5 separate regions of the Homo sapiens genome follow, and regions 1, 3, 4 and 5 are each reported to be linked to region 2. The links are microRNA targets in miRTarBase. Many come from high-throughput screens and were not tested one by one. Region 2 holds a microRNA gene; each other region holds the end of a gene's coding sequence.

Region 1 (6,303 bases), not on the chromosome of region 2:
TGCCCAGGATGGTCTTGAATTCCTGGGCTCGAGCGATCTTCCTGCCTCAGCCTCACAAAGTGCTGGGATTACAGGTGTGAGCCACTATGCCCAGACAACTACATAATTCCTAAGCAGTTAGAGATTTCCTAGTAATCTCTATGGCTTTATTGATTTCTAGCTTAATCCCACTGTTTTCAGAGAATGCACTCATTTTGATTTCTACTCTTTGTAATGTATTAGGGCTTTATGGTCCTTTATGTGTTCAATTTTGGTAAATGGTTTATACAGCATAAAATGAAATTATATTTTGTCATTGTTGGTTAGTGTTTTATGTATCCCAATTAGATCAAGTCTGTCACCTTTGCTATGTTCTTTGTGATATTGTCTGTTCATGCCATCAGCTAATGAGAGGTGTATTATGTCTTCCAGTATGATTATAGATGACTCTTTTCTCCTTTTAGTTCGGTAAACTTCCACTTGATTATATTTTGAATATAAAATTAGAATTGCTACATATTCCTGTTGCCTTTTGGACTGATCTCTGTAGAATAACGGACATCCAAAAATGTCTATATTTGAATCCGTAGAATCTCAGGTTATATGGGAAAAGGAAATTAAGATAGCAGACAGAACTAGATTGCTAATCAGCTCACCTCAAAATAGACTGAGTATCCTGAGTTTCCAGGTGGGCCCAATATAATTACAAGGGTCCTTCAAAGTGGAAAAAAGGAGGCAGAAGAGAGAACCAGAGATCGAGCAGTGTGAAAATAACTCTACCCAATGTTGCTGGCTTTGAAGGTGGAGAAAGAGGGGCATGAGCCAAGAAATGCGGGCGGCCTCTAGAAGCTGGAAAGGGCAAGGTAACAGCTTGTCCCCTAGAGCCTACAGAAAAATATGCAGCCCTATTGACATAAGCCCAGTGAGACCCATTTCAGATTTGTGGACTGCAGAACTGTAAGATAATACATCTGTGTTGTTTTAAGCCATTAAGTTTGCAGTAATTTGTTACAGAAGGAAACTATATGCAATCTTTTTCATTAAAAATTACTTTCTATCTCTAATAATGCTTCTTGCCTTGAGGTCTACTTTGCCTAATACAATCACCCTTCGATATTCACAGGGGATATACTTGGCTTCAAGACTGCCAAGTATACAAAATCTGTAGATCAGAGTCCTTTATATAACATAGTATTTGCAAATAACCTATACACATTCTCTCGTATACTTTAGATTTAATACCTAATACAATGCAATGTATAATTGTTATGCTGTATTTTTTTAGAAAAATTTCAAATATTTTTGAGCCACAGTTGATTGAATCACAGATGTAGAACCCACAGATATGGAGGGCCAACTCTTACTATCAAAGGTGCACCAACTTTCTTTTGGTTAGTATTTGCAATGGTATATCTTTTTCCAACTTTTAAATGTAAGAACACAGAAATATTAAAAGAGGATCTTTTGTATATAGCAGTTAGGATTTTATTTTTCTTTCAACATGTTAAAAATGCCATTTCACTGTCTGGCTTTACCACTACTTCTTTGAAGATAATGTCCCCCCGGGTCCTCCCTCTGTGCTTTTAATATATTCTCTTTGTCTCTGGTTTTCAGTAGTTTTACTACTGTTGTCTGGGTGTGGTTTTCTTTGCATTTATCCTCTGTGGGGGTTTTCTGAGCTTTTTGAATCTGTGGATTGATTTCTTTCATCACTTTCAGAAAATTCTGGGCTGGTACTTCTATTTTTCCACTCTATATTCTCGCTCTTCCTTGGATTCCAATTAGATAAATGGTAGATCGCTATGCTGTGTACCACATGTCTCCAACACAATTGCCAGTTAAGTTCCACTGTTTCATTTCTGTACTTCAGCTTAATATTTTATATTGACCTGTCTTCCAGGAGCAGTTTTACTAATATTCTACTTCTGGTTTATATTTATAAGCAAACACCTTCCCCCACCCAACAACCTTGTTTAATGGAGCGCTGACATAGCAAAACTCCAGGAAAACGGAACTGTTTCTCAAAGGTTTTTGACTTGCTTTTTGGTCTCCTACCCTAGGCAGCTTAAAAGTTCACCAAATGTTTTGAAGGGTAAACAGTGTGGTTTAGCCCTCTCAAGTCTCCATTGTTATCACCCCAGCCCTTTCAAAGTGCCCAAATTCCACAGGTTGTTAGGTTATTCAGCAGCAGGCCCCTCACCAGGCAAAGCTTGAATCTTGCTGTGCCCTGTGGAATCAGCAAACACCTGCCACCGACCCTGCAAAGAGCTGCTGCAGATGACCTCATTGCAGTACTCTCAAATCTTAGCTCCACATTCCTCATTGATTTAGGGGCTGATGCCTCTCAAGGGATAAATGTGGGTATTCACCTATTAGTTATTGACACAATTCTGAGTTGGCCTCAAGGTACTTCAACCCAGGAACAGACATTTTCATACTTACTACCACCCCCTGACTTTTTGTCATTTATTTTTCAAGCAAACTCACTAATCCTGTTAAATTTCCCACATTCTGGAACTGGCTGTTTCTTAGTGGGATGTTTAACTTGTTCCATTAATTCTCACATTTTATGTAAAGTAGCAGATCTAAACCTTTAAATATATATATATGTACATGTATATATGTATATATTTATATACTATATATATGCATATACGTATTATATATATATATATATATATATACACATATATATATATACTTATATATATAAAATTAAATTCAGGTGCTTTCAGTCTGATTCATGTGTTACACACTTCCCTTTGATTTGACTAGGTCCCCGATCCCCGCCCCAAGGCAGAATAGCATAGGTATGTAAAGATATGTAGACAGATCACTTCTATTGATCTCCGGGAACAAGAGACAGGGAACCAGGAAAAGTAAAACAAGGAATGAGGAAAAAACAATTGAAGGCTGCATTAGAGAGCTTATGACCATGGGACACCACAGCTCAATTTTTTGGGGGTTCTTTTTGAGGATCTAGGTATAGAACACATTGGAAATAGTCTGCCCTGAGACAAGGAAGAGAGTGTTTATTCACCATGTCATGTTCACAACTGCTGATGGGCTGCCCAATCAGGTTTGTGTGGGCATCCTGATAGTAGTGCCAGGGTAAGTCCCAGAGCAAATTTTAGAGATATCCAATGGATCTGAAACAGGGTGCTGTCAGGCTACACTTGTACACAGATGGCTGGCTCAGAAATAGCCAGAGCACAAAGACAGGCTGATGGATGTACTGGACATATTTCATGCTCAATCTCAATTTCTTACCCTGTGGTCTCAACAGCATTGATATATATTTCCATGATCCCTTCTTTGTTTCATTAAGGGCTGCAAGTACCGTTTTTCTAACTTTTATCTTTATTCGGTGGAATTTTCCAGCATGAGCTTTTTGACTACCCTACAGGTTCGATTTTGTTGCTTTAGAGATTGGCAGCATATCAATTTGTCCTGAGAACTGATAATAAAGGGAAGTGAAATCAAGCACTTACCCTGCCTTTCTTGTACAGTGATGAGGTTATTAAGAGTTAAAAACAGACACATATACAAATATTTCATGCTCAAACTGTCTCATTTTTACATGGCCTGTAGAAATCCCTTCAAGTTGGCTTGTATAACCCTTTGACAGAATCCCAAGTCTTTAAGAGCCTCCTTGAATCCTGGACATCTTGTACCAGATATGAACTTGTACACTTACTGCCCTGGAACTATTAGCTGTTTTGCAAATAAGTTCTGATTCCTTTTAATTGCAAATGAAAATGAAAGAACACCATCTGGGTACTAGTGGTGCTCATTGTTACTGAACTGTAATTACTCTAGACCTTTTCATGTAGACAGGAGTGGGAAATATTTACTGTTTACAAAGAAAAATAAAGCATATAATGAGGTTTCCATGTCAAATTTAAGATTACTGGGGTCTAATGTTACATGATTATTAATTTAATCTATACTTTTAATAATAAAAAAGATATCAAGATTTTGTGAAATTAATCATGAAAAACCACATTCATTAGTCTAAGATTTTTTTCTGTCCTTAGTGTATATCCCACTGACAATGTAAAATTGAAATATTGTGTTTGATCACTTGAGATTATTTTTTCTCTATGTAGTAGTTCACTGTCCTCTCCTTCCTCTTTAGGGAACTATTATATTCATTTTGTATATATCCCCCAATTGCTTAGTTTTGAAATATAAGGAAATATGTACATATATATAATTGTAATCATTCTCCTTTTGTTACCCTCAAAATAACCATATAAACTACATGTGCTTTCTATGTTCTCACTCTGGAGATCATTCCAGTTTAGTATAGAGATCTTCACTCCTTTTACACCTGCGTAGTCTACACTGCTGTTTATTCAAACAATCCCCTATTAATGAATATTTGGATTGACTCTAATCTGCTTTTAAAAAATAACCATGGATACAATTTGTACTTAATACCTGGAAGTTAAAAAAACTGGCACTGTCATTCTCTTGATCACTCTCCTGATCCTCTGACTTCTTGAATTCCCATTTCCTCAACTGTAAAACAAGGAATTTTAATATGACTTACCTATCCGGGTTAAATAAAATTGCAATTCAAAAAGTATTCCCATATATGTTAAGAAAAACTGAAATAGCCACTAAAATGCATTCAAAATAAATAAATTATATAATTATCACTACACAGATTCACCATACAACTCATTTCTACTTAAGAGATTCATATAGACACAATGACAAAATAGATTGTGTCCACAGAAAGATCGAGAGTGAAATTTCCAGAAACTATCTTAGATGAAATAATTGAAGAATTCAGTTAAATATTTATTGAACAAATGCAGAGTAAATGAACTAAGGGCTGTTATAACCTTAAGTTACAACAAACAACTTCAAATATTCAGAGGGCTGTCACACAGAGAATGAAAGACTTGCTCAGTATTTCTCCAAAGGGCAGAACTTGAGCCAAGCGATAAATATAAGCAACCAATGGGCTGCAGGATAGTTGTACAAAGTGTATCATGTATCTTCATAGCTTCTTTGCCCATATAATGCATTCCACACTTAAGTTTCTCCTTCTAAAAGGCGACAGCACAAGTTAATATGTCTCATAAATGTCTTAAATAAGTTGCATTTTCATGGCAAGCCCTCCACTGCCAGCAATGGATATACTCACACTATTGGAAAAAATCTAAAGTTAACAAACTGGTTTAGTATGGAAATGGTCTATTTGTTCCTCAGCTATGTTTCTGTATCTTACATTAGTGGCTCTCAGGAGGTGGGGGGTGAAAAGAGAGCATGTTCTCCAAAGAGGGTGAATCATAATCCCCAGTGATTCAGATACTGTGCCTGGGGACAATCTTTCTTCAAGTCCAAATGAATCATTATAATTATCAACCAATGGTACATATAAGAGTACGGCATGTGCTGGGACAGAGAAAAGACAGTTGACAAACACTATTCTACATGAAACAGGAAATCTTATTTTATGAGTCACTAGAAAACTAACTGTAATACTGACAGGCTCCATCCAGATTATTAAATACTACAAAATGAGAACTGTTTCAACAACTATTCAGCATAACGTTTATGGACAAAATGTATATAGTATATCTTATATTCTATATGTATTTTATCACATAGTAAGGAATGCTGAGGTGCTTAAGCCATCCAATAAATTGAAAATACAAACTTTACATTTCTACGTTTGTCAGTATACAGGATTCTGAAGATGAATCTTGAACTCAGAGTGATAAATCAGTTTTCAAGGAAAGCCACATAATCCGTCAGTCTGGCTAACTGCTGTTCATTGGGTATTGGGGGAACTGGAGCAGGCTCTGTATGTTAAAGAAACAAACACACTTCATGTTACATACCACAGTAACAAAGCTTTGGCCCCAACACCTACCTCCCCTAATGCCTTCAATTTTTAACAGTAAGTTAACTTTCTTAGATTTGTCCTGGTTTTAGACAAAATCTTACATCATAGAGGCTTGGACATTTTTGAAAAGCAAGCCAAGAAGTTGCAACTTTTATGAGTATGGTTTTACCTAACTGCTAGTAAAGGCATGTCTCATGTTGTTGTTACTGAAGTATTCTATGTAAAGGTTAAAGACACTTTTATCATGCAACATGTCTTTTAAAAGATCACAGCTCTTCTTGAAAACATCCTTACCCATGCAACATTAAATTCAAGAAATAGAGTGCTTCCCATGCCCCAGACATCACTGAAGAATATTAAATTGTCAACAAACCAAAAAAAAAAAAAAAAAAAAGAAAACCCACAAAGAACCTCAAGGAATTTACATTCCAACATTTAAATTACTACACGTCAGCCTGGGG
Region 2 (6,303 bases):
GTATTATCTGAGGTTCCTCAGACAACAGTAAGAGATAATAGACAGGAATTAATGACCCCATTCTTGCATTAGTAGCAAGTAGCATTTTAAACTCTTTGGTTGGTTTCTAGGATGTTGGTTTTACATGTGAAACTTGGATGAATGAGCAATAAAAAGAGAATACTTGAAATGTGTATTTCCTGGCTTCTGTGTTGTCGACATTTGGAATGGTGGTTTATTTCCCACAACCCAATTTTAATATATGTTTTATTCCGTGCATCATTTTGTAAACATAGTAGAGGCCCACCACATGGCAATTTGATTGGCATGGTTGAATCTAGTGCTCGTGTCCTGAGGCTTCTGAGCTAGTGTGGAGGGAGGAGTCCTTTGTAACATGTCTCTGATCAAATTATGCTTTCTCTTTAATTTGTTTACAACTCAACAGCACCTTGGAAGCAGCTAGGTAATTTAGATGGCAGGCATAATTTCATATTTCTTAGGTTTATATTCAGGGCCAACTAAAATAAGGCCTTTATTTCCTCTAATTCATTGTAAAATAAGGAGGTCTTGGGTGGGTGTGGTGGCTCATGCCTGTAATCCCAGCACTTTGGGAGGCTGAGGCGGGTGGATCACGAGGTCAGGAGTTCAAGATCAGCCTGGCCAAGATGTTGAAACCCCATCTCTACTAAAAATATAACAATTAGCCGGGTGTGGTGGGGGGAGCCTGTAATCCCAGCTACTTGGGAGGCTGAGGCAGAGAATTGCTTGAACCCAGGAGGCAGAGGTTGTAGTGAGCTGAGATTGCGCCATTGCACTCCAGCCTGGGCAACAAGAGCGAGACTCCATCTCAAAAAAAAAAAAAAGAAAGAAAGAAAGAAAGAAAGGAGGTCTCTGGATCAGAATCTTCCTTTTCAGGATCCTCTGCAAAGGAAATTCCACTGGGGAGGTAGGTACAGCAGCAGTTCCTGACTTTGATATTAGAGTTGTAGAAGCATGAAAAAAATCTCCCTACCCTAAGCATTTTACTCAAGTCATCTTATTCCTCCAATTCTGATATTTCCTACAGCAATTTCCTCAGTATTTACCATCTTGTAATATATGGATTTTTCCAAGCTGACCTTTTGGAAATGAGATGTGATGTAAATAAGTGTACAACTGTATTAAATATATCTTAAAGAAACATGACTTGTGCTTATCTACTTTTCCATTTCTATCATCTGAGGACCGCCCTGAGATCCACTAAGATAGAGTTGTGTTTGGTTGGGATGGGTAATTGTAGAGAAAGGCAGAATAAGCACCAGGGAAGATGAGAGAAGTCAACAATGCCTGGAATTAAGGAAAGGAAAAGGAAGGAGAAATGGGGAAGGGGCAATGAGGAGGATGAGATTTAGAGAAAACCCCTTTTGTTTCTACAGGCTTCCCTGCCATCTCTCCATTCCACATTCATGCCCACAGTTTGTTTTGTGAGTGTGTGTGTGTGTGTGTGTGTGTGTGTACTGGAAGGCATGGGGTAATGAAAACATATTGGCTTAGCTCTGTGACTAACAAGAAAAGTGGTCACTGGTTAAGTTAATGTCTTTGGGCTCTGTGTTCTCATTTGTAAAATAAGGAAAGTGTTGCTTCTAATTCTGAACTTTTGACTCTGATGCAGTTTCTCACTGTGTTCTCTCAAGTTCAACCAGAAAATGAAATGAATCTGAAATCCCTTCAAGTTGTTAAAAATTTGCATATATGTATAACATATGTATTAAGTATACAAAACTTTAAATGTACAACTTTATGAACTTTTATATGTGTATATTTGTATGTGTGTGTATATGTGTGTTGCATGTGTGTATATGTGTGTATATATGTACACATACACATACACGCAACACACATATATACATGCACACACCCACGTAATGGCACCTAGATCAAGATACAGAACATTTACAACACCACAGCCTTGCCTATTCTCAGTCTGTTTTTTAACTTCGTATTGATATTCACGGTCATAATTCACAAATGGAATCATCATACCTTATGTCTTCCTTTAGGTCTGGTCTTTTTTGCTCTTTATTGTACTTCTAAAATTTATCTATGTTGTTCTATTTAGCAATCATTTATCCTTTTTCTTGCTGAGTAGTATTCTGCTACCCATAATATACCATTGTTTATCCACTTTATTGTTGATGAACAATTGGGTTGTTTCTAATTTTTGTCTATTTTGAATGAAGCTTCTATGAACATTCTTGTCAAAGTCTTCTGGTGGACATATGTACTCATTTATTTAGGGTATATACTCAGGAGTAGAATTACTGGGACATGGTTTTACATTTAGTTATAGGAAGAGCTACCAAATAGTTTTCCAATGTGATTGTGCCAATTGACACTCACTAATGATCAGAGTTCCCTTTGTTCCACATTCTCACTAGCACTTGGTATTCTTTTATTCGATGTAAAGACTATTTTTTATTTGGTCCTTCATTCACTTTTATTAAGAAAAAATATTAATTGAGTGCTTATGTTATAGCAGGCCCTGTGCTATGGAGAGGTTATTGTTCTTACTGTCATAAACCTAATGTTTGAGTTAGGGGCCCACAGACTTGTTCAACTATACTTGAACAACACAGACTTCTGCGATCCATTATATGCACATGTACAATACAAAATTTTTTTAGGTACTGTATGTTGGAGAGGGAACTTCTGCCTGAATTCTAATTTGGTAATACACTGCAGGGAGGAGCATCTACCTTTTTGTCCATTCTTCCATTCTGCTTCCTGGCTCCGTTGCAAAGGAGAAGTTGTAGATCTGGCTGGTTAAAGCCTAAAGCATTCACTAAGAAGCATCACTGGTGCAATTTCCAGGCTTCAAATGGCTTGCAGCTCTTTTCTGAAATCTTTCTTTCACTGTCTGTCTTCTACATAGAAGGTGCGGCCACAACTTTCAGAAGATCAGAGAAGGCGTATGTGAGGAGGAAAGAATTTAGCTGGGTCTTGAATGATGAGTATACCCACTGGATGAAGAAGTTGGGTATAAGTATTCTGGTTAGAGAAAAAGAAAAGATAAAGACAAAATTGTGACTTCCAGGGACTGTTGGTGATCTGGTTAGGTTGGAGTGTAGGATTTGAGACAGGTATAGTAAGTAAGGTATGTGGCCACAGAGGTAGAAAATGGATAAATCTCCAGTAGTCTTTTATGATATGCAAAGAATGTTCCCTGTTGGTGGTGAGGCTACTGTGGGGATTAACCAAGATAGTGATATTATGGCATTTTCTATATTAGAACATTTTTTGTATTATTAAAATATGTCCTACATTCTGAAAAATAAAGCTGAAAATGCTAAGTAATATGTGTCCTATTTCTAACAATTGTGGAGTAGATTCAACACTATTCAGTTGTTACACAGAAAAGTGCTATTTGAAAATGTTGATTACTGAGTCCTCTAATTATCAGCATCCTACTGAGTAGTGGGCTTGTTAATACCTCAAGAGTAAGGGCTATGTCTCTAGCCTCTTACATCTTATAAATTGAAGACATTTCAGAGTAATCTTAAGTCCAATGTTCTCATTTTACTTATAGAGATTGATGCTTATTTATTGTATCTCCAGCATCTCCAGTTCAGACTGCCCAATTCTCTGGATGCACTCCAGGGTTTGTGCATCCTGGCATTGTGACAGGTTGGGCTAGATCATGGCAGATGGATAAGAAAGCTAAGCATATCTGAAAGTCAACATCTGGGGTAAAAGTGAACTGAAAAATAACATAGACTATCCCAATAGAGGGTCAGTTTAAAACAGTTGTGCAAGGAGTCAAGGTCCAGGTCAGAAGTAACGAGACAGAACTAGAGACCTCAAGGCAGGATGGGGCTGATTCTGAGACATCTATGGAGGTATGAAACACTGAAACCAGAGTCTTGTTATAGAGGAATGTTGGTTATGGTCATAATCATTGATGGGAAGAAAGTCCTGAAGTATACGGCATCAGTTATTTTTTTTAATAGGTAAACATTACTTGATTGCCATGAGGATGGCTAAAGTCCAATCTTGGTATGCCAAAAAAAAAAAAAAAATGCTGGACTGAATTAAATCAGCTGATACACTGTGTTGCAACTGAAACCAATAACTGTAAGGAGTTGCATATGAGCTAGGATATCCTGTTGCAAGGAACAGAAAATTTAATTTCAATTGACCTTTTCAGTGAAAGAGATTTATTACTTTAGGAACCTGAGCATGCAGAGGCAATAACGCGTCCATGATTGGTTGATCCAGCAGTTTGAGGGTAGCACTATGGATTTAGTTTCTTTCCATCTCCCTTCTATGGCTCTCACGGTGTCATTTTCCTCCTAAGTCTGGTTGCCCTCATGGCTTTAAGATGGCTGTCATAGGCATTGGGATAATACGGTTTCTGTTCAATGCTGGCAGGGTACAGCGGGTTTATGGCCCAGCTTTCTGAGCAAGAGTCCTACAATCAACCTTGATTGGCTTGCACAGGTCACAGGCCCACCCTTGAACTCATGCTTGAGTAAAACCAACCAGGGACCACTATTGGAGTGAGGGGGAAGTTTGAGCTTATTCTGAAATAATATGGGATGCATGGAGAGAGGTAGCTATTCAAATAATATCTGGGGGCTATTAAAAGAAAGACATGAAATGTATTGGGTGGGTAACCAACTGTGTCAATTATAAGCAAGAATACTTGACATAAACTGAACTTCTGGATGCCACTTGCCGAGAATCTAGACCCCCAGCACTAGGGTTACTAATTCAGTATCTCTGCATTTGAGTGCATTTCCCCTATTTATGTGACAATAAAACACTTTTGGGAACCACAAGAATGCATGACTTTAGAAAAATTTTTAAAATTTTCCATGAATTCTTTTCCTTTATAACAATACTATTAGTACATGTTTATAACCTAAAATTTAGAAAATACAGAAAAATGAAGAGGACCATTTGAAATATTTTTCTTTCTTCCATGGGAAATGCGTGTATTTCCTAAAGAGGGATGGTATTGCATTTGTTAAGTGGAAGTACTGAGCATGAGCTTTGAAAAATCTATTATGCTCCTTTCTGATGAATGCTTTACATTTCATTAGAATTCCTCTACATCTTCAGAGCAATTTTGGGATACTTGCCAGCAGTTAATGGTCTCTCTGTACTATTAACACACAGGGACAGAGGAGCTTTGTCATGTCATCACCAAGACTGGCTTTATGGAGAAAGTCATTAATCAAGGCAAGCAGGGCATTTTGCAAATATCCAGGCCTGGCGAATCCAACCACCTCAACTGAGGAAACTTGTACCTGGAAGAATCTAAATGTGACTCAGCCCTCCCTGGAAATGACTGAGCTTCAGCCTGAAGGACTTCGTTACCTGAGGGAAATCCTTATGGATCAGGCTTGAATTATTTTTATTTACATGCTTTGTTGAAGGTGAGCTTGTTTTCCTAAACTTGTATGCTCAGCTGTTCACCTGAACCCCTGGACTGGAGGGACTGTTGACACTCACAGTTCTCTGGATGGGTCACCACTTGCCCTGCCAGCACCGTGCTCTCACCTTGTTGGAAGGAAGTTTAAATAATACAGAGAAGATGTCATAGAGGTGATGAGTTTTAAATGAGCATATTATGATAACAAAAAATGTTCCAAATTTCTATAACCTTCAATGCCTCTCAAGAAAGATTTCTGGAAGTTGCTTTATAGTCCCTAGGAATGACAGTCACATAGCAGGATTGTTTCTTCTTCTTTTTATGCACTTTGTGCCAGGGATTCTTTTGAGAATCTTAGGAAACCTATGGATCCCCTTCCTAGCAAAATATATATACATACAATAATTTTAATGTAATTTTTGAACTATCCCTAGACAGGTTAACAGGGCCCAGATTGAGATATATGATAACTCCTCTCATGAATGGTTTAAAAACTGGACTCTTGAGTTAGGCCACTATAGTTTATTTATTTACCTGCTCTGATACTTGTGTGATCTTCAGCAAGCTGCTTAATTTCTCTGTTCCTCAGTTTCATTAGCTACAACATGGGAATAATATAAGAACTTACTTCCTAAAGCTATGGCGTGCAATAAATGAGATAATGATCTGATCTGCCACAGGGGTGCAGTGTTAAGTTCAGGGAGGAACTGTATTGTGACCAAACTTGCTATAATACTTTATCCACTCACTGATTTAGGTGAAGTTGTCGAGGGTGCTGCCTGTTACATTACATAGCATCCCATCCCCTGAGGCAAAGTTTAGTTTACTTGCTGTGCACTGGGAAACCATGGCAAGGTTTTAAGTAGAGGAGCGATAAGATTTTTCATATTTTCTTTTCTTTTGCATTGAGT
Region 3 (6,058 bases), not on the chromosome of region 2:
GGTCTACACTTCTTTATGCAAGGTATTGATATACTATACTGGTCTCTTCTTTAGTTCCTTTACTTTGAGTCCATCAACAGTAAAATTTTGGAAGTAAAACTGTACTCTTAGTCTTATAAAAAATGAAGCTTGAAAAACATCTACTTATTTAAAATTTTAAAACTAAAATCTAAAAAGCCCATATAAAAATATATTTATTTTCTCATCTAGAATAATTCCTATAACTTGGTGGATGCCTGAACATGAATCTTTCAGAGTATCACTGTGAAACAGTATTATTTTGTTACTTTTTTAGTTCTGCGATTAGACAATGCACCGGAACCTTATGATGTGAGTTTTGGGAATTCTAGCTACTACAATCCAACTTTGAATGATTCAGCCATGCCAGAAAGTGAAGAAAATGCACGTGATGGCATTCCTATGGATGACATACCTCCACTTCGTACTTCTGTATAGAACTAACAGCAAAAAGGCGTTAAACAGCAAGTGTCATCTACATCCTAGCCTTTTGACAAATTCATCTTTCAAAAGGTTACACAAAATTACTGTCACGTGGATTTTGTCAAGGAGAATCATAAAAGCAGGAGACCAGTAGCAGAAATGTAGACAGGATGTATCATCCAAAGGTTTTCTTTCTTACAATTTTTGGCCATCCTGAGGCATTTACTAAGTAGCCTTAATTTGTATTTTAGTAGTATTTTCTTAGTAGAAAATATTTGTGGAATCAGATAAAACTAAAAGATTTCACCATTACAGCCCTGCCTCATAACTAAATAATAAAAATTATTCCACCAAAAAATTCTAAAACAATGAAGATGACTCTTTACTGCTCTGCCTGAAGCCCTAGTACCATAATTCAAGATTGCATTTTCTTAAATGAAAATTGAAAGGGTGCTTTTTAAAGAAAATTTGACTTAAAGCTAAAAAGAGGACATAGCCCAGAGTTTCTGTTATTGGGAAATTGAGGCAATAGAAATGACAGACCTGTATTCTAGTACGTTATAATTTTCTAGATCAGCACACACATGATCAGCCCACTGAGTTATGAAGCTGACAATGACTGCATTCAACGGGGCCATGGCAGGAAAGCTGACCCTACCCAGGAAAGTAATAGCTTCTTTAAAAGTCTTCAAAGGTTTTGGGAATTTTAACTTGTCTTAATATATCTTAGGCTTCAATTATTTGGGTGCCTTAAAAACTCAATGAGAATCATGGTAAAAAAAAAAAGTTAACCAAAGAATATACCTGTACATAATTTGTACAGTTTTAAGTTGTTAGATAGGAACTGGATTTCTTATGTATTAGACATTATTGCTCAATCATAATGGAATAGATTCTGCATCCCTAAATGTATGAACCATAAGGTTAAAAAAGATGAATGGAAATATCAAACAACTTTTTACTGAGCATCAGTTTCATAATCAATAATATAAGAAGATTAATTTGGATTCTAGTATGTTTCAGTTTGTTTTTAATTACCACCTTCCTTTGGTAGAAAAAATATGTTCCTTGATGTAGGAAAGTCTAGGTTTTAGAGATTAGAGGATGAGATCAAGAGTTAAATTCCTAAAGAAGCACTGAATATATGAAGAGAGCAAACAAATCAAGTACCAACCTAGAGGCTTTATTTTTGAATTGATTCATGGTGTGTGTGTGTGTGTGTGTGTGTGTGTGTGTGTGTGTGTAACACAGAAACAGCTTCAGAAAATAAGGGATAGAAAGTAATGAAGAAAGTACTTACCCCATATTGCCATAAAAATAGCAAAGAAGACTGTCCCTCCATTATCGAACAAATATGTCACCTGAGTAGAAAACAAACAGAAATATTAGTCATGCAAATTGATTATAATAAGCCAGTGAATACTGTTTGCACTCAGGTACTATGATTTTTTCTCAAATAGAATCATATTATTTTATAGTACAGAAATATTATATATGAATTCCTTTCATGGGTCTTGCAACAATTTCACATGATTTTTCTCATGGGGAGAGGTGAAGAAACAACATTAGCCCTCTTCTCTCCTCTCTTGATTCCCTTTATACCCCACCATCATTTCTGATTATAAATAATTCTACCATTCTATGGAAGTATTTGTGGGTCACAGATTGTCAAACTACTTAATGAAAGTTGTATGAAATTAGTTTTTCAGGTGAGGCATTCCTAGTTGCAATTCCTGTTAGCAAAACTTCTAGGAGTGGGGAAGTTGGAAAATGCAGGATTCTTCCAGTGAGCCAGCATTTCCCATAGCTAACCCTATTCTCTTAGTCTTTCAAAATGTAGAATGGGTCCAATAATGGCTATAAGATGTAATAAATCCCATCTTAATTTGTTTTAAAAGTTTCATAAATCACTGAACACTTATGAAACAAAGTGTTTTTTAATCAGATATCAACTGAAACTTCATAAAGGATGCATAGTTTTATAATGTTATTGAATCAAATTTTAAGGCTTGTATTGTTTGATTTTAATAAAGTATAAATTCAATTTACCTTTGCTTGTTTGCATTTGCATAATGCCCTCAGTATATATGTAACTTAGTGAGAGAAATTAAACTAACACAGTGAAGGCAAAAAATGTCTGGCCAGCACAAAAATTCCATAGAAACGATAGAGAAAATAGGGCATTGTCCTCACAGGAGGGTGAGGACAATCATGGGTTAAAGAACAGTATTATAAGGAAAGTTGGAATGGAATGGTGTCCTCCTTGTTCAATCTGACATCCAGAGGGTGCTCAATGGGAGCATTAAAACAACAGTAATACGTATTTCAGTTGTAACATCTGGAACACACTGCAAAATATATGTAAAGCAAGTCATCATAAAATGTATTTTCCTATAATGTGGCATTATTGATAATATCATCATAGAAAAGATGCGCTCCCTTTGAAGGTTGGTGGATAGGTGCAAAATGTCCCATATGGCTCTAAAATTCATTGTTGGTTAAGGCACGGTATTTCTAAAAATTAATATAAAAATCGGTTTTCAAAACAATCATCAGTGTACATTTATATCAGGAGAGAAAAGGATCATAAAGAAATTCTCCCACAGAGCTCATAAAATTATACCCAGCAGGGAGTCAAGAATTTTTGTTTCTCAAGACGTCCCACAGAGACACCTGAGGCTGCTGAACAGCTGAACAGCTGTCTGTTTTCCTTTGTAAACCAACATCATACAGGAAACAGTCTCTTAGAGTGTTAGAACAGACTTTACACATGGGGATTTAAAGGTCACCAAGAAATAATGGCCCTTCCCCGCTCTAGAAATAACCATGCTTTTAGAAAAGTGGCAAATAAAAAGCCATCCTTAGTAGCAATTGTGTTGCATGAACTTATCATAGTTTGTGTAGTATTTTCCTTTAAAGTGCTTCTCATTTTTTTTCTTACTAGGTTTGCTAACAAATCTTTCAGGCATTTTAAGTCAATAAATTTAAACATTAATAGTTTAGGAACATCTTCCTGAGATAAAGTTGGAGTACATGTAATATTCTTGTAATGTGGGATTATATACATCTAATGGGAGATAAAGCTAGAAGGAGCATTAGAGAAGACTTCAGAACTTGCTCTAAGGAAGAGTACGACAGTGTTTAATCATGTGTTAGATTTACCAAGCTATTACACATGGGATGTATTATGACGTGGGAGATCATAGAGACAACAAGAACAGTTCGAGGTCTGTGGTTATAGCTTGAGATGTTCAGGGCTTTATTTAGGGTGCTGACATATGAGCTGCTGAATGAAAATGGGAAAAAGAATGAAGGAAGAGTCAAGCTTACTGTGAATGGCTCAAGCTTAGATCATGGGTGATTGACAGAAGAATTAAGTGATAACTGGCCTTCTGTCTAATAGGACAAGAGCACTTGTTATACTGAAGAAACTCCAGATGAAATATTGAGAAAATTCCATAAGCAGCATAGCAGATTTTTCTAAAAGCAAAAAGAATCTTGTCCTACACATATAATTAAATATGTAATACATTAAATTATTTTATTAGAAAAACAGCTTGCCTTTATGAATAGAGGGACCCATGGCAAGCATTTTGTTCAACTTTTTTTTTTTTTTTTTGAGACAGAGTCTCGCTCTGTTGCCCAGGCTGGAGAGCAGTGGTGTGATCTCGGCTCACTGTAAGCTCTGTTTCCTGGGTTCACGCCATTCTCCTGCCTCAGCCTCCCGAGTAGCTGGGACTACAGGCGCCCGCCACCACGCCCGGCTAATTTTTTGTATTTTTAGTAGAGACAGGGTTTCACTGTCTTAGCCAGGATGGTCTCGATCTCCTGAGCTCGTGATCCGCCCGCCTCGGCCTCCCAAAGTGCTGGGATTACTGGTGTGAGCCACCGCGCCTGGCTTGTTCAACATTGTTAAGATGACTAGGCATAATATATAAAGAAGGTAGCAAACTTAGCCTAAAAGCTTGATTTAAGTACAAATTGTCCATTTTCTTTGACACCTGATTTCTCTTGAAGAACTGAGTGTGACTACAAATCAAAAAATGTGGGTACTGTTAAAGAGATATATATCTGATTAGGTTGGAAGCTGAAAGTCTATGTTTTCTCCATGATACCTGCTGGGTCTTGTTCTAAAGTTGCTTTATAGGTTCAGAAAAACATAAGGCTCTGAAAAATGCCACTTATATCCCACTAAAGTCTCTCCAGGATAAGGAGAACAAGGTGCCTCCTTGGCAGATTCAACCATGTATGCAGAGCTATTACTGGAGACTTGGAGGGCAGGGAGTCAGAATTGAAGCTGAAGGTCACTCCCTTTCACTTCCTCATTCCTTACCTCTTGGGCAGGGTAAAACCTGAATAACCATTTTATTTGCTGGACCTGGGCAGAAGCTACATAAAAAATGCAGTCTTGATTAGACTATTCTCCACGTATCTTTTAAAAAATTTGGTCCTAGAAATTAGAGTCACCTGAGGAACTTGTTAACATAGAGAGTTTGAGGCCTCACCCTTGACCAATTGATTCTAAATTTCAGGATACGGGGTCCAGAAATCTGCTTTTTTAACAAATGTTCTAGATGATCTGATGTACAGTCTTATACAGACTCCTTTTTTTTTTTCATGAAGTTTCTTGAAAAGAACAGCTTCTCTCCTACTTCTGTTGTAACCTCAAATCAGTATACAGTCTGAGGTTCATACTGGGTATTGAGTACATGTTTGTTAAACAAGTTTTTTTTTAAAGAGAAAATTATTATGAGTAAGACTTAACTTCAAGGGGTTGAGTCATTTTTCAATTATATGAAAAACAATTTAGGACCTCTATCTAATTATTTCACCTTAAATGAGAATTCCTAGCATCACAGGGTTTGATAATGTAGTGTCAGTGCATTTAAATGTGTGCAAATATCACTAAATTACTTAATTGCAAAAATATCCTAATTCCAATACTTTTAAGTACTAAAATAAAAGTAGTCATGAAAGGAAACATTAATGTACTTAAATATTAATTTTTATCATATGATAGGACCAGTTATTTTCCATGCAAACATATCACTGAAATTATAAAGGGAATAATTATATGTACACACATGGCCTTTTCAATATAATATGGAAAATTTAATTTATTTTTCTTTGTCACAAGCAGTAATGGATTCTGTAAGGAACTGAATTGAGAAGTCCCTAGATCATGTGTCCAGATGATTTTGTTTCTAGATGATCCTAGATTGGTTGGCTTGTACCTTTGGCAAAAATCTGCTCCCTTATATCTGATTCTACCCATCAATAAATTATTAGCTATTTAAATTCAAAAATATATAGTAAAATAGACTGTTGATTTCCATCCAATAAGGGAAGAGGAACTCTTATTTTTAAAGTATAAAACAAGTAGCTACATTTTATCTTAGTCAGAGGAACAAATAAAAGACATTTCATCCTAGTGGGTTGTATTTCTTGTATTCTTCCATAAGGCAATATTCTCCTTTGCAAGCTAACTTTTCCACCTTCCTTATACATGTTATTAAGTGAATTCTTTGTGAGTCATCCCTGTCCTTAAATGTACCTTTCTCTGTTCAGAAAAGAAGAGATGTATTTACTGCATGATGACAAAAGCAACCTAGATGTA
Region 4 (6,080 bases), not on the chromosome of region 2:
TAATGACAGGCTCACATTTCTTCCTCAACTCCCACCTCCAAAGCCACTCCATTCAAAGAACTGCTGGTGAGGTGCTGGGGAGTCAATCCGTCGTAGAGGGGAAGCGTTCTACCCCTCCAGATCCTTCTGCAGACAGGAGGGTGTCTGCATTCGGCGGAGTCCAAGAGTGCGGTGAGGACACAGTGGCAAAGGAATAATGCCATTCCTTGAGGCAGCGCTGGGCTAGTAGAGACCTGTGAGGAAGTAATGTGTCCTGTGGGGATTTCAGGGTAATTTAATCAGCAGCACTTCAGCAGGGTAGAAAGCAAGGGCGGGGAAAAATAATGAAGTCAGCACTCAGCTACCAGGAGCTCCTCTGTTCAATCTAACGGGGAGATATGACCCCAGAGCAGGGCTTCCCTCCCTCCACCCGGCTCCCACTTCCAGCCAGGTAATTCTGTGTCGTGGGGGCTGTTGGGCACCATCCCTGGCCTCCCTCCACGAGTGCCCACAGTACTGCCCTCCTCCCCACCTGTGACAAAAATGTCTCCAGACATTGCCAAATGTTCCCTGGGGGGCAAAATTGCCCCTGTTGAGCACCACTGCCCTAGATGAACTGGAAAAGTTGGTTTGTGAATATGTGAGCTTAGTTGTTTCTAACACAGGGCTGAAAAACAAGAGAAGGGGACAAAGGCTGCTTTCATATAAAAATGTACTGTAGTAATCAGTAAGAAAAAGAAACAACATTGGCTAAGTCACGAATAGGCATTTCACCATATGTACATGATAAATGGCCAATCAAAATAAGGAATGGGGCTCATTCTGCTGGAAATTAAATACATTCAAACAAGAACAGAGATCCATTAGCAAAATGTTTAAAAATAATATCACAGGGTTACCAGGGGTATGACAAAAATGGACACTTCCATACACACTAGGTGAATATATTGGTGAAAATAGTTCAGATAAACATACAACCATGTATGTAAAAGTATTTATCATCAATGCATTATTTGTAGTAGCAAAAACAACAAGCAGCCTTGGAAACCAGTTAATGTCCTCAGCAGGGAATTAATAATATTATTGTATATTCATGAAATTGACACCATGTGGCCACACAAATGCATTACACAGGCCTCTATGTAACATAGGATATTCATTAGAGAATTGTTTTTCAAGAGGACAAAGTACTTTCATTTTTGCCTAGAAAATGGGGGAAGACAAAAATGCGCTTCTCTCTAGGTTGTGTGATTTTAGGTTATCCTAAGTTTCATCCTTACGTGCTCCTGAATTATCTGAAATATCGTATCTTTAAAAACAGTAACAACAATAGTAACAAGAGCTCTGTAATTCCTACCCTTCCAACCTCAGGAGCCCACCCACCCCTATCCGAGCCGACCCCTGACTGCCCCTGCCATTGCTCCCTGCTGAGTTGCAGACATTGACTTCTTGCCAAGCCTCAGGCCTTGCTCACATCGACACCTCACAGTGACCCTGAGAGGCAGATGCTGTGACCCCATTTCACAGATGAAGGGCCTGAGCCACAGAGGAGGAAGACTGCCTCAGCCACGCCGCTAGTAAGTGGTAGTTCCCAACTCTAGAGTCCCAAAAGAATTCTGTCCTACTTATGAAAAGTATATCCAATAAGCAGTACCTCCCTGTGTTTACAACTTATCTGCTGATCCCAAGGATGGGAAAAGCTGCACTCAGAAACTTGCAAATTGTGCAACTGTTCCCCACGATTCCCTTGGGGCCAGTGCCGACTGAGGCATCTCCAGGAGGCCCCAGTTGGGCTTGGGGACATGCTGAGAGGTGACAGCACTGCTCTCAAGTCATATCCTCTGCTTCTGCAAAAGCTGTGGAGCTCACCCATCAATAGCAGCTCCATGCCGGGCGCAGTGGCTCACGCCTGTAATCCCAGCACTTTCGGAGGCTCAGGCGGGCAGATCATCTGAGGTCAGGAGTCCGTGACCAGCCTGGCCAACATGGTGAAACCCCGTCTCTACTAAAAGTACAAAAACTTAGCTGGGTGTGGTGGTGTACGCCTGTGATCCCAGCTACTCAGGAGGCTGAGGCAGGAGAATTGCTTGAACCCAGGAGGGGGAGGTTGCAGTGAGCTGAGATCACGCCATTGCACTCCAGCCTGAGCAACAGAGCAAGACTCCATCGCAAAAAAAAAAAAAAAAAAAAAAGGCTCTAGCATTGCCAGATCCCAGGCCCTGTGGAAGGTATTTCCCTCCCTCTTTTGTCCTTGCTTGTCTCAGAGCCCTTTTCACAGTCTCTTGTGTGCTTCTTTCCCTGTTAGGACCAATCTTTACAACTCCAGCAAGCGCAGCAAATAAGATGCAGAACTGGGGGAGATGCAACGTATGACTCAATTCCCTTGAGCCGAAAACACTCACTTATTAACAATATTTTTTTCTTTTTTTTGAGACAGAGTCTCACAAAAACAGGCACACGCCCCCACACCCGGCTAATTTTTGTATTTTTAGTATAGATGGGGTTTCACCATATTGGTCAGGCTGGTCTGAACTCCTGCCTTCAGGTGATCCACCTGCCTCAGCCTTCCAAAGTGCTGGGATTACAGGCATAAGCCACCACGCCCCACCAATGAAATGTTTTCTAAAGGTGTTTTCATCCCTTTTGTGATCTCCTAAACTCCCAAGGTGTATCACACACTTCGCTGGGCTCTGGGCAAACAAAACTTAGACAAGGTCCCTGATTCTAGAAACCCTCGGTCGAGGGAACCACAAACCAACCAGAGTGGAGGGCAGGGAGAGGTCCTAGGTTGGGAGCTGGGAGCCTGGAGCACGTGCCAGGTGCTCTGCAGCCCAGCTTCATTATGGAGGCTCAAGCGCTGTGAATTTCCAAAAACAGTGAACACACCCCTAGCTGATTGAAATACAAAAAACATATTCCACAGCCAAATGAAAATGACTTTTGGATCCTCCACCTAATTTGGGTGTTTATGCCGCCTCGCCCCTCTTTTGGCCTGGACAATTGAAATATATCTGCTCTCAGGGGAGACGCCCACGGTGTCAGGGCTGGAGTTGGCAAGAGACAGGGGGAAGAGGACTAGACCTGGAGTCAGAGATGAAGTTCTTGTCTGGGATCTGTCACTAAGTCTCAGCGGGGACCCAGGAAGTCACTCCACCTCTCATAGTTCCTCATCCACAAAGTGGAAATACAAGCAAGTTTAATTCTCCATCGTAAGGTTGGAGCTCCTGTCTGTGAAAGGACTGGAAATGTAAAATGCGCTCTTCAAGTACAAAGGCAGAGAGGATCCATAAACAGGCACAGGCTGCCCTTTGGTATAAACTGTTCACATTAAATCTATGTTATGTTGCTCAAGAGTTAAAATAAGCTCAAAGGAGAGGCTGATTCCAATGTCAACCCAGGGAAGACAGACACTGAAATTCCAAACTGAGTTACCAAAAACAATAGATGGATGAGACATGCAGACATGCCACAATCCGGCACATCAGAGTTCGATGTAGTCCTGCTGCAAACACATGGAATCCGAGAAGTCCAATGCAAACGGAATAGATTTCTTGGGATCTAATATTTTTCAAATTGCCTGACCAGCTTACCTTCTAGGAAAACTTATTTAAGGGAGGCAAATAATTTGGGGAGATGAGTATAAGAGGTAGTAGGAGGAAGCTAAGGGAAATCACCACTACATATTGCAGGAATGTATTAGAAGGCAAATATGGCCCAAAGAAAAAGCTCCACTGAAAAAAACATTGAATACTGACCACAGAATTAGCACCTTGCTCCCAGGTCAATAAAGTGAACCAAAAAAATTACAAAGACCTTGCTCAATCCTGAGGTTCGTGAGGAATATAGGAGAGTTGTGTGTTCACGTGACTCCTGAAAACAAAGAGCAGTACTATTCGAAGGGCATGATGTCTTGATCTTAGGATCAAATATTCTAGACCTTGAGCCGGAGAATCTGCATTACAGTAGGAAAAATGGGGAGTGCTTTATGCCTGTGGATTCAGGACACACCAGCAACCTACACGTGTAGCATTCTCTAAGTCATAATGACCATTCTCATCTCCCACTGAGGGCAGGTGTAAGACTCTTCTCTTGCAGTGCTCTGATAGAAAGCTGGGTTTCTTCTTCTTCTCTATAAATCATAGGGAAACCAAATATTTGTACCTGTTACAGCCCCAAAGCTGAAAGCAATAAAGAATAAACACATACAGCAAGCTACGAGGTGCGTCTGTTTAGGAATTGCCTCAACGTTGGGTTTCTATTGATAGAACAGGGGAGGAGGTTGCCTCTGACCTTCCTGAGGCTCCCACTGTACCCTGGCTGAGTAGCCCACAGTTAATTTTAAGTGGCAAAAGAAATGAGAACAAATTCCTCCAGGAAGAGAAATTAGATTTCTGCTAAAACAGTGCTCTCCATAGGGTATATGAGCACATTCGACTACCACTGGAAAATAACCTGAGGGCAGGCACATGGTGCCCACTGTTAGAAATCGTGCAGTTAGATTAGAATGGAAGAGTGTCTGAGTTTTTAGATAATTTTACACGTCAGGATATGGCTAACAGGTCACGTTCAGGGCCTATGCTTGATACTGTCGAAATACAAACAAAAATAACTGCCTAGAGAGAATATTCACGTCCTAAAAGAGAAAATGTTGTATCTGGGTGGAAGAATGATTTAACTCCTGAAACTCGAGAACACAGAACAACAACAAAAATAATTTCCTTGAACATATTCAACTAGAATGGCAAGGCATTTTCCTACATAAAACATTAGAATGTTCCCATTACTCCAAAGGAATCCAATAAATAATTTTACAGTGAAAGAGCCTGGATCAAAACTGGAAGTGACACCGGCCCCCGATGAACACAAGTCACAGGTCCCTGTGCAGGTCCCAGGGCTGAGTCATCCAAGAACTCCACCACCACCGTGAGCCCGGCCTCCGGTTTCATCTTTCCCGAATGGGACTGGCTGGAGGGGCCAAGCTGCTTTACAGAAGAGTTCCATCTGGTAAGCCCGGGTGGTGAGCGAAGCCAAAGATGACAACACGAGAAGGGGTCAAAGCCAAGGTTTCCTCACGCTGCCTTTGTCTTCTTCCTGCAGCCTGGCCCGATGGCTGAAGCTGGGTCCCAGGAGGCGAGTTCTTCAGCGGGGCCTCCTCACCCAGGCTGGAGCAAGTCCGCTGCACCCGTCAAGCGGGGAAGAGCTCGGGCGGGCTTTCTCCATAGCAATACTTTGCTATGGGGTCCCGGTAGGTGTTCTCATGCTGCACGCTCTGTTGGCAAAAGGAAAATAAGAGCGCAGTGAGAGCGAGCACAGCTTCACACACCTCCCTCTCGGAAGAGTGAGAGTGGATCGGGACTGTCAGACTCTCCCTGCAGGGGGCTGGCCGAGTCCATCTCCAAATGTCACTAAAGGCTCCAGGGCACTTTCTGGAACAAAGAAGAATGCTCAACCCAGAATGCCAATGAAGAGCATGAACACAGACATAACATCGCTGTGGGACTGTTTCTTTTTATGTACACCAGTGAGTTTTTAAATAACTTTGCTGTGACCTGGTGACTCAAGACAACTACTTTTCCTCAAATTACTTGAAACAGTCTAAGATCCAATGGGTGTTTTGCACCTGATCCTGAGCTTCACTCAGTTCCCGTAAGGAACCCTGCAGAGACACTAAGGAGATGCACTTTAAATTGCTTTCATAAAGTTTATGTACCTAAAAATTTGGGGCATGAGCCAAATCCTACAATACCATGCAAGCCTCATTTGGCTAAGCAAATTGGAAGTGTGATTTAAAGCAGACAATCATTCCTGATGGCTAATTTTTCAGCAATTTGTTTTCATACAAGCAACTTGGGTTTTTGGCTAGTCTAGAATTCATTAATTAGTCCAAGACCAATGCTAAGCAACAAACTTGTAAATATTCATCCAATTTAACAGACATATAGCCAAGTCTTCTCTTTCTTGGGATACTTTTATCAAAACAAATCAAATGGCAATTGGGAAATCTTTTTATGGTAAAAAAGACCAAGTCCTAAAGTATAGTAGCTTCACTGAAGACTGGAAATAATTCCTGGGTTTTATCAGTGAAGGAAAGAAAATACTTC
Region 5 (6,303 bases), not on the chromosome of region 2:
CTGTAAACAAGACAAATTACATGAAAAAATGTTCAAGACACTGCACATTATAGGCAACAAAGGCAATTTATGGGGGGAAAAATGAGATCAGTCTTAGCAACTACCAAAGCTTACTGCTTTGAGCTTCTAGGCTGTAGTACAAAGAAGAAGAACACAGGTAGAGCTAGAAGCCACCATAAGTTAAGACAGAGCTAAGAGTCCAGGGAGATCCAGGTGGCTAGAGTTTGCAGGACTGGAGAGGATTAGAGAGAGCAAACTTTAGGATTATACAGAACACTACCCCACCATGCACGTCTTCAGCTGAATTCTGATAGAACATGCATGTTAGGTGACTAAGGCCAGGGAAAGAGCCATCCAAAAGACGTGGAGCAAACAGTGTCTGGTGCGCACATGGAATAGGAATAGTGCCTGTTCCACCACCAAGACTGGGAAACATGACTCCTTGCGGTTTTGGATAGAGTACAGAGAAGGCTCTTACTGAGGTAAGAGCAATGCTTTGGTCTTGCCTAACAAATCTTAAAAGCAAGACCTCAAAGGATCAAAGTTTCCAAGTAACTTAACTGCATCCTGAATAAAGCTCAAGAGTTTATAGAAACACAAAAATATCAGGCACCCAATTCATAGTGTTTGGCATCCAATAAAAAATTACCAGGCACGCAAGAATGAGGAAAAAAATATCAAAACTAACTCAGAACTGGCAAATGTAAACGTTAGCAGGTAAGGACATTAAAACAGTTATTAGAACTACATGTTTTCAAAAAGTTAAGATATTGAAGATACTTTAAAAGGTCCAAATCAAACATTGTAGGTGAAAACAAAATGAGATGAAAATAAACTGAATGATATTGACTACACATTGCAAAAAAAAAAAAAAAAAAACAACAATAGTCAACTTAAAGACAAACTATCTAAAACAAACACTGGGAAAAAGAATCTTAAAAGCCAATGGAGGATCGATCAATGAGTTGGAAGACAATCTCAAGTGGCCTAACACATGTGAAATGGGAGTTTCCTGAAAGGAGGGGAGGAAAAATAATTGAAGAAAGAGTAACTGAAAATCTTCCAAATTTTGATGAAAACTGTAAACCTACAGATCCAAGCAGCAGCAGCAACAATGGGACTTTCTGATGCTTTGAATGGAAACAATCTAAAAACATTGCCATCTATTAAAAATATTTGTCAGTCCTAGTAAATGAGTGACAGTTTTAGCAAAAATTTACCTGGGTAAAACATTCATATCCAATTCAAAGGCAAGAGTTTTCTAAGAGGCATACCTGGTTTCCTTGAGTTTCTGACTTAGCTGACACAGACCAAAGAATATTCTGAATGCTCAATCTACTTTTTCTATTTTAAGTCACATAAATATATTTAATAGAAAACTCTGATAACAAGCACTTTACTTTCTGACAAGATGTTAAGATTTTCTGTCCTGGTATATACCACTTGTTTCCAATTATGTCTAAAAACTCCTAGACTCAGACATCCATATCAGGTATGATACATCAATCTAGCAAGGACTAGGAGAGATAAAAAGTAGACAATGAGGAGGAAAATACTTGGGTGGAATGAAAACTAGCGGCTTTACTTTATACAGTTGTTCAAGATATTGTTACTTGAACTCCAGACTAAAATTATGGATAGAGTATTAGTCCAATTTGAAAATATTCCTGTTTAATACCACTGGGTTCTCAAACCATTAACAACCACTGGAACAACAGGAAACAGTTCCTTAATAATTTTTGCCTTTTAAAGTCCCAAATAAAGAAGTTCTCTCTGCCACGCATATCTTCTCAAGTAACTGAGATCAACGTTTGGTAGGTTTCATTCTGCAGTATTTTTCTTTATATAGTACATTTTGCAATATTTTTCTTTAGTATCTTTAGACATATTTAAAACTTGGAGATTCATACAGTCCCTGAGGATCCTAATTAACTACATGGAATTCAAAAATTCTTAAAAAATTTATTATCTTTATTTAAAAAAAAATTACACACACACACACATGCATACACACAGGATTGGAAATTTTTTTTTTTTTTTAGAATACTAACACCATCTTTTATTTTTCCAAATTCCTACAGTCTTATGCCACTTGACTCCTAGTTAACCAGGATATAAATGTATAATCTTTTCATATCATAGGTACCACTATCATTTCATCAATTTCCTGAAGTAAATTGAGTGAAATCATAAGCACACACTTAAGAGTCAGTATTTATTCTGATTAATATTTTACAAAATTTTGACATTTAATTTATGTAAGGAGGGCTAATTTATTAAACACTTTACAGGTTTTTCTTTCCACAGAATAACACGGTAAGTAGCAAAATAATACTTGGCACAGTTATAAATAAAGAAAATATAAAATAAAAACATCCATAGCTTAAGTACAATGATGCTGTTTTACGCCCATTAATATCAAATAAATTCCTGGAAACAACAAAAATATGAATGAAAAAAAACTCCAAGGAAGTAATTCATGTTCAGTGCTGAGAATTAAGTTCCTATTTGCTAAAAGTATCCAATTAAGTTGATAAGAACTATTCCCAAAGGTTCACCATCATACACAACTTTAGAACTGGGTTTATAGTTGGTTCCACACACAGGACCTACAAAATAATTAAACAGATGGTATACTGCTGCATAGCTGGCTCCTGACCATCTGACCATTTCTGAGTTATAGATTTCACAGGTACTACAAGATGGTTACTACAAAAGCATTCACATTGCTAGTATTTTCCATGTAATTACACATCTAGAGGTTTGTCTTTTTAACTGAATGACATCTCTTTTGCACTGAAAATATTGTACCACAAACAAAGAAGATGGTAACAACATTCTTAGCCAAACTCTGAAAAAACCACCATAGTCTTTAACTGTTGATAAAAATGTATTCGATAAAAATGCAACTGAGTCTTCATGTGAAGTGGCTCAAAATACAAAAAATTAAAACAAATTCTAGCATTTTATAAATAACTTTGAATTTAAAAATTATCTAAAATTTCCCCCAATTAGTAGTCAAAACTAGCTGACATTTGTAAAGTTAACCAATTTTTACATTCTATGACAAAATGGCACAATGCTATTGCCACCCCACACCCATCTCTTCCCTTTTCAAAAATAAAGTACATATGCCAATTTTCTAATATTAAAACACATACACTAAGGGTAATCTTTTTTTGATGTGTGACTTATGGTCAAATAAGCTACTATATAAAAATGGTACTTGGAAATACTGAACATCAACTATATACATTTCACTGCTCCTCTTACTAAGGCAAGGGGCGGGTATACCACTAGATTGCTTTAATACCTGTAATCTGCATTTTACAGGGAAGACTAGTTTTACCAAGCATCAGACATGCAGTGAACTTGCAGGGTATAATGCCTATTAACAGCAATTTTGAACATCACTAGAAGCTCATTAGTTATCTCCCTTTTCTTTTTGGTTGGACAAAATGAAATGAGCAGCTTTAAAAACACTAACACAGACACAAAGAGAAAACTATTTGATAAATTATTTATATACAGATACACATTCTTTACATTGGTCTAGGATCTGTCATCAGTCTGACCACCATTCCCCCACATCTCCCACCCCATTCCCTCTCACAGATTTCCCACAGGTTGCTCGAACCACAGTTTGCTACAGCACTTAAGATGAATAAACCAAATCTCACCCTGTAAACAATATTTATGGAAGCAGTGACTAGTAGTCCACCATGAAGGTATGAAAATGCTGTGACAAAAATTGATCAGTGCATCACATTTAACAAAAAGAAAATTTTTTCTAAAACTGTTTCAGAACTTACTCAATATTGGATAAACTGAAATACTCTTGGGGATGAAATTCTACTTTCTGATAGGTCATTTTATTGAAACCAGAATATACTGTCAGCTTTTCTTTTATTCACATGTGCTATGTACTTAGATCATGCTCCATCTTTAGTTAAATGCCATTATTTTGTCTACAATTATTTTGCAGCTGAGAATTTAAAAGGAAGTATATCCATGTATCACTATTACTGAGAATTTTGCATTATTTGTTCTGCCTTTTCTTGAAAATACCACCTTAACCCTTAAAAATGGAACTGTTTTTGAACATCAAATTAAATTCTAATTTATGCTTCACTGGATAGTATCTGCTAGTATACATTCTATGTGGTGTGTCATGCAATTAGCAGGGCTTTTAAATTTGAACAAAAAAACATGACTTACTATACTCATGCAAGTGCTTCATTATCAGACCGTAAAACCTCAGAGTAAGGTTACTACAAATTATTTCACTGAACTAGAAATATATCAGCATTGCAACAGCTGATAGAAACAAAACATTGTTAGCACATTTTATTGTGAACATTATTTTCTCCTGCCTTTGAAGACAACATCACAGTAGATCCCAATCACATGATTTTCATCACAGTATTTATGTGTACATTCTGAAATGTACATAATAACTAGTCAATCAACTTAAAACAATGCTCCTGGAATTAGATGCAATACTCGTACTAGACTGCATCATAACATTTAGCCAAATAACATAAATTTAGTTTTAGTTAAAACTGAACATTTCTGATCAGTACACCATGTCTGTCAATAGAATAAGTTTACCCTTTTTTTGTGAAAAATACTGTGAGAACAAAACCCAAAAGTTGAGTATGTTGTGAATTTCCACATTAAGAACCATTAAAATTATTTTTTATCATCTTTACTCTTCCCAGAAATGGCAGTGTGTTCTGTCCATGTTTACTTTTGTTAATAAAAGTGTTGAAAAAAAGACTGTAAAATTCACCATTAGCCCTACACATAGCATGCTCTTGTTCAAAGGATGTGGATTCGAGTGTGAGAAAGACACGGACAGACACAATTTTCAGGCACCACTCAGCAATATGCTTCATAGGATAAGATGTCGCTACACCAGCTGGTACCCAGATCCTGATATTTGGTCATATTCTATTGTATACTGCCTGGTCCAGTCCACGATAACAGGACGAAAGAGGCCACAGCATCGAAATTCAAAGAAGTCTATAATATTTCTTACACATCCATGGCTAAAAACAGCACCCCAAAAAGAAAACACGTCAGTCAGTACAAATGATTTAATACATGAATTCAATATAATTTTCGTGTTAAATATATTTTTTTCTAAACTTAAAAACTCAGGTTACTTGCAAGAAGGAACCAATTCATAACTCTATAAAATATATATGCCTTCATGTTTCTCCACTGCTCTGCCAACAATGATTTTTTCTTTTGCCAATTTAAAGACTTACACAATTATATTTTAAATTTATTCAAATGTGCATATACTTTCTGTGTTATATGCATTTTTATTTTTATTTTTAGAGATGAGGTCTTAACTATGTTGCCCGGCCTGGCCTCGAACTCTGGGCTCAAGCAATCCTCTCACCTCAGCCTCCCAAGTAGCTAGGACTACAGACATGCACCAACATGCCTGGCTCCATATGTAATTTTTGATAAAAACCTTTAATTAGTGGCTCTTTGGCAGGAGACAAACTATCTCTAAAACAGAAAAAAAGTAAAAGACAAAATAATTATAAATAGCATGAATCTGGCAGTGAACCTAAGGATAACAACTTAAAAAAGAAATGTCAAGGATAAGTTCATGAAATTTTAGTACTCCAGTAACACCTTTAGAAAAGCAGTCAGTTTTGGCCAGGTGCGCACCAGTGGTTCACGTCGGTAAGTAATCCTAGCACTTTGGGAGGCCGAGGCGGGTGGATCATGAGGTCAGGAGTTCAGGACCAGCCTGGCCAAGATGGTGAAACCCCATCTCTACTAAAAATACAAAAACTAGCTGGGCGTGGTGCATGCCTGTAATCCCAGCTACTCAGGAGGCTGAGGCAGAGAAGTGCTTAAACCCAGGAGGTGGAGGTAGCAGTGAGCCGAGATCATGCCACTGCACTCCAGCCTGGGTGACAGAGCAAGACTCTGTCTAAAAAAAAGAAAAGAAAAGCAGTCAGTTTTGTGCCTTATATAATTTTTGTACCTATGGGAGAATTCTCAAAACTACCCAACTAACTCTGTTTTTATTTAAAGGTCTGCTTGCTTTCCAGAAGTATGCCATAATTGACAGCACCACAAAAGCTGAAGAGTTGGTAATAACTTCAGTAAAACTCAAAGTTTTAAATATTTCATATACTTAGGACCCTACTATTTCTAAGCACCAGACTGAATACAAATTTAAAATTAAAAAGAAAAAAATATAAGGAGATATCACAACTTTATTATATACAGTTAATGTGATGAATTCTGTTTTGTTGTTATTATGGTGAACTGATG

Evidence for each region. Region 2 holds the annotated microRNA hsa-miR-466 (AUACACAUACACGCAACACACAU, at 1,838-1,860, shown strand). A microRNA usually pairs through its seed, bases 2 to 8, with sites in the 3' UTR of a target mRNA and lowers its output. Matches are read on the target gene's strand: a 7mer-m8 pairs with bases 2 to 8, a 7mer-A1 pairs with bases 2 to 7 and ends in A, and an 8mer does both.
Region 1: miRTarBase lists COPS8 as a target of hsa-miR-466. The part of its 3' UTR that is shown has no 7-base or 8-base seed match.
Region 3: miRTarBase lists MUC15 as a target of hsa-miR-466. Seed matches in the 3' UTR shown: 7mer-A1 at 1,681-1,687.
Region 4: miRTarBase lists SPRING1 as a target of hsa-miR-466. Seed matches in the 3' UTR shown: 7mer-A1 at 1,106-1,112.
Region 5: miRTarBase lists ZDHHC17 as a target of hsa-miR-466. Seed matches in the 3' UTR shown: 7mer-m8 at 4,802-4,808, 7mer-m8 at 3,533-3,539 and 8mer at 2,748-2,755.

Annotation. Positions count from the first base shown.
Region 1 is chr2:237,097,158-237,103,460 of GRCh38, reverse strand. It overlaps COPS8 (COP9 signalosome subunit 8), which reads right to left. Exons shown (of 8, transcript NM_006710.5): 8 at 2,987-5,798. The coding sequence ends at 5,719. Among named protein-coding and RNA genes, the nearest start is that of COPS8, 14 kb to the right of the region's middle.
Region 2 is chr3:31,157,271-31,163,573 of GRCh38, reverse strand. It overlaps MIR466 (microRNA 466), which reads left to right and starts at 1,787; the gene lies at 1,787-1,870.
Region 3 is chr11:26,555,463-26,561,520 of GRCh38, reverse strand. MUC15 (mucin 15, cell surface associated) reads left to right here. Exons shown (of 5, transcript NM_001135091.2): 5 at 296-2,489. The coding sequence ends at 456. ANO3 (anoctamin 3) reads right to left here. Exons shown (of 27, transcript NM_031418.4): 14 at 1,742-1,802. Among named protein-coding and RNA genes, the nearest start is that of MUC15, 14 kb to the left of the region's middle.
Region 4 is chr12:116,712,646-116,718,725 of GRCh38, forward strand. SPRING1 (SREBF pathway regulator in golgi 1) reads right to left here. Exons shown (of 5, transcript NM_024738.4): 5 at 1-5,248. The coding sequence ends at 5,165. Among named protein-coding and RNA genes, the nearest start is that of SPRING1, 22 kb to the right of the region's middle. RefSeq lists enhancers at 4,547-5,076, 5,077-5,606.
Region 5 is chr12:76,849,595-76,855,897 of GRCh38, reverse strand. ZDHHC17 (zDHHC palmitoyltransferase 17) reads right to left here. Exons shown (of 17, transcript NM_015336.4): 17 at 2,202-5,051. The coding sequence ends at 4,913. Among named protein-coding and RNA genes, the nearest start is that of CSRP2, 26 kb to the left of the region's middle.